Homo sapiens: one gene and its partner. The protein of the gene in region 2 purifies or fractionates together with the protein of the main gene of each other region. This does not show direct contact. Each region holds a gene or a part of one and is shown on either strand. Other genes may lie near its edges.

Evidence for each region.
Region 1: the proteins of DDX11 (region 2) and RFC2 purify together in Homo sapiens (affinity purification with western blotting, with the first as the bait; one study listed by BioGRID). This does not show direct contact.

Annotation. Positions count from the first base shown.
Region 1 is NC_000007.14:74,247,876-74,251,685, forward strand, and holds part of RFC2 (replication factor C subunit 2), read right to left. Parts: intron 1,906-3,810; coding exon 1,864-1,905; intron 1,346-1,863; exon of another isoform or gene 1,244-1,345; coding exon 1,137-1,243; intron 1-1,136.
Region 2 is NC_000012.12:31,090,666-31,094,475, reverse strand, and holds part of DDX11 (ATP-dependent DNA helicase DDX11), read right to left. Parts: intron 2,758-3,810; coding exon 2,605-2,757; intron 1,631-2,604; coding exon 1,584-1,630; intron 1,232-1,583; coding exon 1,152-1,231; intron 1-1,151. UniProt on the Homo sapiens protein: DNA-dependent ATPase and ATP-dependent DNA helicase that participates in various functions in genomic stability, including DNA replication, DNA repair and heterochromatin organization as well as in ribosomal RNA synthesis.

The DNA of each region.
Region 1 (3,810 bases), on a different chromosome or scaffold from region 2:
CACCAAAATTCACTTTTGCTCAAGTCCCTTATATGAAATGGTATAGTATTTGCATATTAACTTATACACATCCTCCAGAACACTTTATTTTTACTTTTATACAGAGATGGGGTTTCATTATGTCACCTAGGCTGGTCTCAAACTCCTGGACTCAAGCGATCCACCTGCCTCAGCCTCCCAAAGTGCTGGGATTATAGGCATGAACCACCATGCCTGGCCGGCCTTCCATACACTTTAAATATACAGGCTGAGTATCCCTTATCCCTAATGCTTGGGACCAGAAATATTTCAGATCTGGGTTTTTTTTTCACATTTTGGAATTTTGCATTATATTTACTGGTTGAACATCCCAGTGTAGTGGCTCACGTCTGTAATCCAAGCACTTTGGGAGGCTGATGCAAGGAGGATCGCTTGAGTCCCGGAGTTCGAGACCAGACTGGGCAACATAGTGAGATCCCGTCTCCACAAGAAAAAGCTGGCATGGTGGCATGTGTCTATAGTCCTAGCAACTTAGCAGGCCAAGGCAGGAGGATTGCTTGAGGCTAAGGGTTTGAGATCAGCCTGGGCAACATAGTGAGATCCCATCTCTACAAAAATTTTTAAACTTGAAAAAAGAGAAAAACTAGTTGGTTTTTTTTTTTTGGAGATGGAGTTTTGCTCGTCACCCAGGCTGGAGTGCTCAACGGTGCGATCTCAGCTCACTGTAACCTCCTTCTCCTGGGTTCAAGCAATCCTCCTGCCTCAACCTCCTGAGTAGCTGGGATTACAGGCACCCAGCACCACGCCCAGCTAAGTTTTGTATTTTTAGTGGAGACGGGGTTTCACCATGTTGGCTAGGATGGTCTCGAATTCCTGACCTCAGGTGATCTACCTGCCTCGGCCTCCCAAAGTGCTGGAATTACAGGTGTGAGCCACCATGCCTGGCTGAGAAGAACAGTTTTTGAAAATTTCCATGAAAACAAAAAAAATAAACCGGCAAGTTGACAAGTGAGCAACGCTCTTTCACTGGGAAGGGGTGGAGGAAATCACATAGCTGGCAAGGCTTCGCATACAACCCAATGCTGAGAAAGGTTGTTTCTGTAACAATTCTCAATGCAGAGCACCCGCCCCCCTACAGGTCTGACTCTAAGACCTACCTGTCATTTGAAGCATTGAGTTCCAACATGGCATCTTTGAGTGCTGGGCCCAGCAGGGCCCGGGCCAAGCACAGAATGCTTGTGGTCTTGCCGGTTCCTGGAGGGCCCTGGGAATGAGATCTCCAGTAAAGACTTCAAACCACCAGAAGGACCTCAGGTAGCTCTTGAGTTATGTTCACTGCTGTTTGCATCTCCGTCACCTCTGACCCCTGCATTCCACCCACAGCACACACAGATCAATACAGCTGGCCGGAGACAGTGGCTCACACCTATAATCCCAGCACTTTGGGAGGCCAAGGCGGGCAGATCACCTGAGGTCAGGAGTTCAAGACCAGACTGGCCAACATGGCGAAACCCCGTCTCTACTAAAAATACAAAACTTAGCTGGGCGTGATGGCAGGCACCTGTAATCCCAGCTAGTCGGGAGGCTGAGGTACAAGAATCGCTTGAACCTGGGAGGGAGAGGTTGCGGTGAGCAGAGATTGCACCACTGCACTCTAGCCTGGGTGACAGAGTGAGACTCCGTTTCAGAAAAAAAAATAAATAAATAAATAAAAAAAAATACAGCAACCAACCCCAGGCCTCCCAACTAGAGTGAAACACTTCCCTTTGCCGGGGGAATGGGAAGGGGCTCTCCAGGGAGGCAGCGCTGTGCACAAGAAAGCAGTTCAGCGGACAGTGGGATGAGACATGGAGACACTCAACAGGCCCAGGGCTGGGTACTCACCGCAATGATGATGTTGGGCACATTTCCTTCCCTTGCAAAGACCTACGGCGAAAATGATCATTAAAACCGGTTAAAACTTGCTTCTGGATGACTACATAAAAAAGATAGAAAAAAGAACAAACAAGCAGGTTAAAACTCGGCTGAGCACAATGGCTCAGGCCTGTAATCCTAGCAGTTTGGGAGGCCAAGGCAGGACAATCACTTGAGGCCTGAGGCCAGCCTGGGCAACACAGTGAGACTCTGTCTCCTCAAAAAATAAACAAAATTAGCCAGGTGTGGTGGTGTGCTCCTGTACTCCCAGCTACTCGGGAGGCTAAAATGGGAGGATCGGTTGAGCCTGAGAAGTGGAGGCCGCAGTGAGCTGTGACTGCACCACTGCACTCCAGCCTGGGAAAGAGTGGGACCCTGTCTCAAAAACAAAAAAAAAAAAACACAAAACCTGGTTAATTTGTAAGCTTTAGGAGCTGAATCTCCCCAGCTACACAGCCTGTGTAGTAAACGTGGCTACAAATTTATCCACATGGACTGGATGCCCCATGGAACTCTCACCTCAAGTTCTTTTTATTCTTTTAGAGATGCACTCTGGCTGTCACCCAGGCTGGAGTGCAGTGGTGTGATCAAGGCTCACCGCAGCCTCCAATTCCCAGGCTCAAGTGATCCTCCTGCTTTGGCCTCCCGAGTAGCTGGGACTACAGGTACTCACCTCGGCATCTTCAAAACTGAACACTTCATTCTCCTGTACAAACCTGAGGCCCCACCCATGTTTCCCACCATGGACTGTCTATGCCATGAAGTTGAGGTTGCCATCATCTTGGTTTGGCCTCATCCTCACCCTGAGTACTTCAATAACCAGGGCTTCACCATCCTCCTCCTTCGTCTCCAGCGTCCTTTACTTCTCTCCATCCCTTCTCTCCATCCCGGCTACCACTTTCTTAAGCCCATTATCTCGTCTGATTGCTATCAATGGGCCATTAAGTGGTCTCCATGCTCCCATTCAAATCCATTTCCCATCCTGTAACCACGACCACTTTCCTAAAGTACACACCTATTAAAACATTTTTTTTTTTGAGATGGAGCTTTGCTCTTGTTGCCCAGGCTGGAGTACAATGGCACAATCTCGGCTCACTGCAACCTCCGCCTCCCGGGTTCAAGCGATTCTCCTGCCTCAGCCTCCTGAGTAGCTGGGATTACAGACGCCCACCACCATGCCTGCCTAATTTTTATTTTTAGTAGAGACGGGGTTTTGCCATGTTGGCCAGGCTGGTCGTGAACTCCTGACCTTAGGTGATCCACTCGCCTTGGCCTCCCAAAGTGCTGGGATTACAGGTGTGAGCCACCACACCCGGCCCTATTAAAACATTTTTCCCTAACTGAAATCCTTGACTCCTCCCTGCCCTCACTATGAAGCCCAAACTCTTTTTGTTTCTCAAAGTAAGGGTGTCCACTCTGTCACCTAGGCTAGAGTGCAGTGGCGTGATCATAGCTCACTGCAGCGTCAAACTCCTGGGCTCAAGGGATCCTCCTGCCTTGGCCTCGAGTAGCTGGGATTACAGGCACTTGTCACCATGCCCAGTTTGAACCTCAGACTCTACAGGCATGTGCCACCACACCCAGCTCATTCTTAAATTTTTTCGTAGAGACTGGTTTCACCACATTGCCCAGGCTGATCTCAAACACCTGGCCTCAAGTAATCTGCCCGCCTTAGCCTCCCAAGGTGCTGGGATTACAGGTGTAAGCCACTGTGCCCAGCCTTAGGTCATCTTTTAAAAACCTACTCAAGGCCGCTCGTGGTGGCTCACGCCTGTAATCCCAGCACTTTGGGAGGCCGAGGCAGGCGGATCACGAGGTCAGGAGTTCAAGACCAGCCTGGCCAACACGGTGAAACCCCATCTCTACTAAAAATAAAAAAATTAGCCAGGCGTGGTGGCGTGTGCCTGTAGTCCCAGC
Region 2 (3,810 bases):
GGCTTTGTTTTGCTTTTCACTGTTTATAGCATGCAACGGACCCACTGAGAGGGCAGGTGGGTCCAGGAGCCTCCCATGTCTGACTCACGTGCTTGCACGTGGAACCCAAAGCCCTGTAAGTTCATGTTTTTCACCCCTTCTCCAGGAGGCCGGGACACAGCAGCCAGACCAAGGTATGCAGGGCACCGGAGCACAGAGGAGCTGCCCAGGCCACTGGTGAGCCTGAGGCAAAGCAGAGCTGGTGGCTCAGAGCAGCAACACGAGACCAGCTCCCGCCAGGAGCTCCCACAGGCTTTCTGCAGCTTCCACTTCCACAGACGCCTTCCAAGGGGGTGCCCCATCATAAAAGAAGGGGACGTGACAGGGTCATGCAAAGAGGCGTGGGAGCTGGAGTCAGAAGATCCCAGGCTCCCGTGCTGGGAGCAGCCCTTGCTCCGAGCTCTAGTTTATGCGTCTATCAACAAGGATTCAAATACCAGCACTGCGTTCTCACAGGGCACACAAAACCGCATATGCAAGTGCTTCGAACAACCCACAGAACTATGCCTATCACGGAAACACCGTGTGTCTATGTGATGCTGTATCCTTAATATCCCCCCAGAGCAGGGCCTGAAATAAAAAGTCCTCAGAACATGGGCAAAGAACCCATGGGTCTAAATAAAGCTCAAGTCAGACAACTCAACTAAGCTACAAAGAACAAGAATTTTCTAAATCAATGACCAAGACCCTTCTTTTTTTTTTTTTTTTTTTTTTTTGAGACTGATTCTCACTCTGTCGCCCAGACTGGACTGCAGTGGCACAATCTCGGCTCACTGCAACCTCCGCCTCCCGGGTTTGAGCAAGCAATTCTCTTGTCTCAGCCTCTGGAGCAGCTGGGACTACAGGCCACGGCAACACTCCCAGCTAATTTTTTTGTATTTTTAGTAGAGATGGGATTTCACCATGTTGGCCAGGCTGGTCTCAAAACTCCTAACCTCAGGTGAACCACCTGCCTCGGCCTCCCAAGTGCTGGGATTACAGGCGTGAGCCACCGCACCCGGCCGACCCTTCTTAAAAACACAGAGAACTGAGGTGTCCTGATGGGCATCCAAGGAAAAAGCAGCCCAGCGAGTTTTGCAGGCCCGGGGTCAGCAGGGGGACGAGGCTCTCACCCCCTAGCACAGCCACGAATTTCTCCAGCAAATACAGGATCTGCTTCAGGTACATCAGGTTCTTGGCCTTCAAACGCTTCCTGAGAAGAAGCCAACGGACATTAAGTGGTGGTGCCCTGATGGCGACTCGCCCCGCCCACCCCAGTGGAAGCCTTGCTGCCCGGTGCCTCTCAAACTGGGTCACAAGCTACAAATCCTTTCCCAGAGAGCAGGCTGGCCACGGCCCCAGGCCTCAGAGCCAGCGGTCAGTCCCCAGCCTTCCAGGTCTGTGTGCAGCACACACCATGATGTGCCTAGGACATGAATGGCATGCAGCTCCACCCCGCCACAGCCCGGGCCAGAGGTGGGAACCAAAGTGCTGCCTGCCTCTCAGAGGCCCACGCAGGGGGCCACCAAGGGACTGTCCCACTACCTCAGAGGGTCACATCTCACCCGTATCGCTCCACGTACTGCAGCAGCTGGGAATGGGCCTGGCAGAGCTGGGGAAAGAACACAAACCAGGCTCTGAGCAAGCAGCTGAGGGCTAAGGTACTGACATCTTAGATTCACCTAGAAGATGCTGGCCCTGGACACACAGGAAGCCACCAAAGGGAGGAGAGGGGGCTGGCTGCAGACAAAAGGTACGGGTTTCCACAGCCCTTAGGCTGGTGGGAGCTAAGAGAAAAGGGAAGGAAGGGAAGTTTTCCTCCAGTGTCCACTGTGGGTCAGAGAAAAAGCAAGAGGCTGAATTCCTCAAGTATGGAATCTCCCTGCTAAGTTTCCACCGGGTTGGGAAAAGACCTGGAGTCTACAAAGAGTGATGGTTCAAGGCCACCATCACATCCCAGCCTCAATTCAGCCCAGGCACAGGTCAGTAGAGCTGGTGGGATGTCGTGGGGGTTTTCACAGTCAGAAACCAGTGGGCACACCCCAGCTCCACACTCATGAGCTGCATGACCTCAGGACAGAGCTTGACCATCTTTGAATCTCCAAGTTTCCAATGTAAAACAGGAACACCACACCCATGGCAGAGTCAGCGTGAAGACCAGAGACACCTGGTGCCATGCATGGCGCATGATAGGGCAGCAGGAGGAGCCTGCGCTGATCTTGAGCATTCCTCAATTCAGTCCCCTCCAGACAACTTCAGTAATGACAAAATCCAATCCTGAGGGGACTTCTGCCTCACACATGCCATCTCCCTGGCTTACAGAACTGGCTGCTGGCATCCAGGGCTGGAGGGACTCAGGAGCATGGGGGCAGATGAGGTGCAGGGAAATGAGGCACTCTGTCATAGCGGGGTCCCCCGATGCACTGGAAAGCCATGGTCAGCCTCCGATGAGGTCACCGCCTTGACTCGTGCACCCTCTATCAAGCCCCACCTCCGGAGGAACTCTTGGCCCAGGTGTCTGGAGGAACCATCCAAGTCCCTTTACGTCACAGCAGGCCCTGGCCCGGGGAGGGGAGGCCCACACACCTGGGAGCCGCTGACCTCCACGCTGTGCATGCCCGTGATGGTGTCGATCAGGTTGTGCGCCTCGTCGATGATCACCACCTGGTCCTGCAGCCGGATGCCCGCGGCCTGCCGAGTGGCCGCATGCAGCAGCATCTGATAGGGCAGCACCACCAGCTGGGAGGGGAGATGAGGCCACCTGAGCAGGGCGGGGCTCCCCTGCAGGAGCCTTGCCTGCCTGACACTGAGCTCCTGATGTGAGTGCTTCTATTTCCTGCCTGGACTGTGTAGAGACATTCGAAAAACAGCTTGTGGCAACGGACAAGCTCTCCTCGAGTTTCACATGAAAAGCCAATACATGAAACACAGGAAACTAGGGCTGGTCTGACTCCTGAGTAAACCAAGGGCAGGGCTGGGTGAAGGGAACCCCTGCTTAGCCTTGTCCATGTCCTCAAGGTCGCCCCGGAGGCCCCCGAGTTTCCACAAACACCTGCAGACCATCGGTGCACCAGGAAGCGGCCCCAGCTTCTACTCCTGGAGCTGCTACTCCCCAGCTGTGTGACTCTGGAAGAGTTGTCTAACCTCTCTGACTCTTGCTTTCCTCATCTGCAAAATAGGGTTGATACATCCTATTTCAAAGTGAGGGTTAAGGCGTGGAGCTGGGGTAACAAAAATAAAAGCAACTCTGCACATCTTTAGGTGTTTGTTGTTAGGAAAGTTTCCAGTTAAAGGAATACTCATATAAAAAATAAAATATCGGAAAACTGAATGGCTCCATCACCCACGCTTGGTGAGAAAATATGAGTCACTTAACTTTTCTGGGCTCCAGTGTCCCCATGCACAGAATTTCACTGGAATACTATTAACATAAAAGCAAAATATGGTCAAAGTACTTTAAAAATTCAAAAATTGTAAAGATTTTGGGCCATATTATGGTATTTGTGTATAAATGCCTATAGCACTAATCTTGCTCTAAAGGCAAACAGACGGGAGGGAAGGCCTGGGACACCATGGGGCCTGGCAGCTTTCCTCAGTTTCTCTGCCAGTGCCCACACAGCTCAGCAGGTATGCTGGTGAGCATTTAGCTGCTGTGCAAATGGTTACTTAGTTCCCTGAATCTTTTAAAACCTTACATTTTTTTCTGGATTATACAGAATTTTCCACTAGTGATATCCCGTTTCCAAAGTCACTCAAATTAAAGAAGTAGCAAGGAAATAGTGAAACTGCACC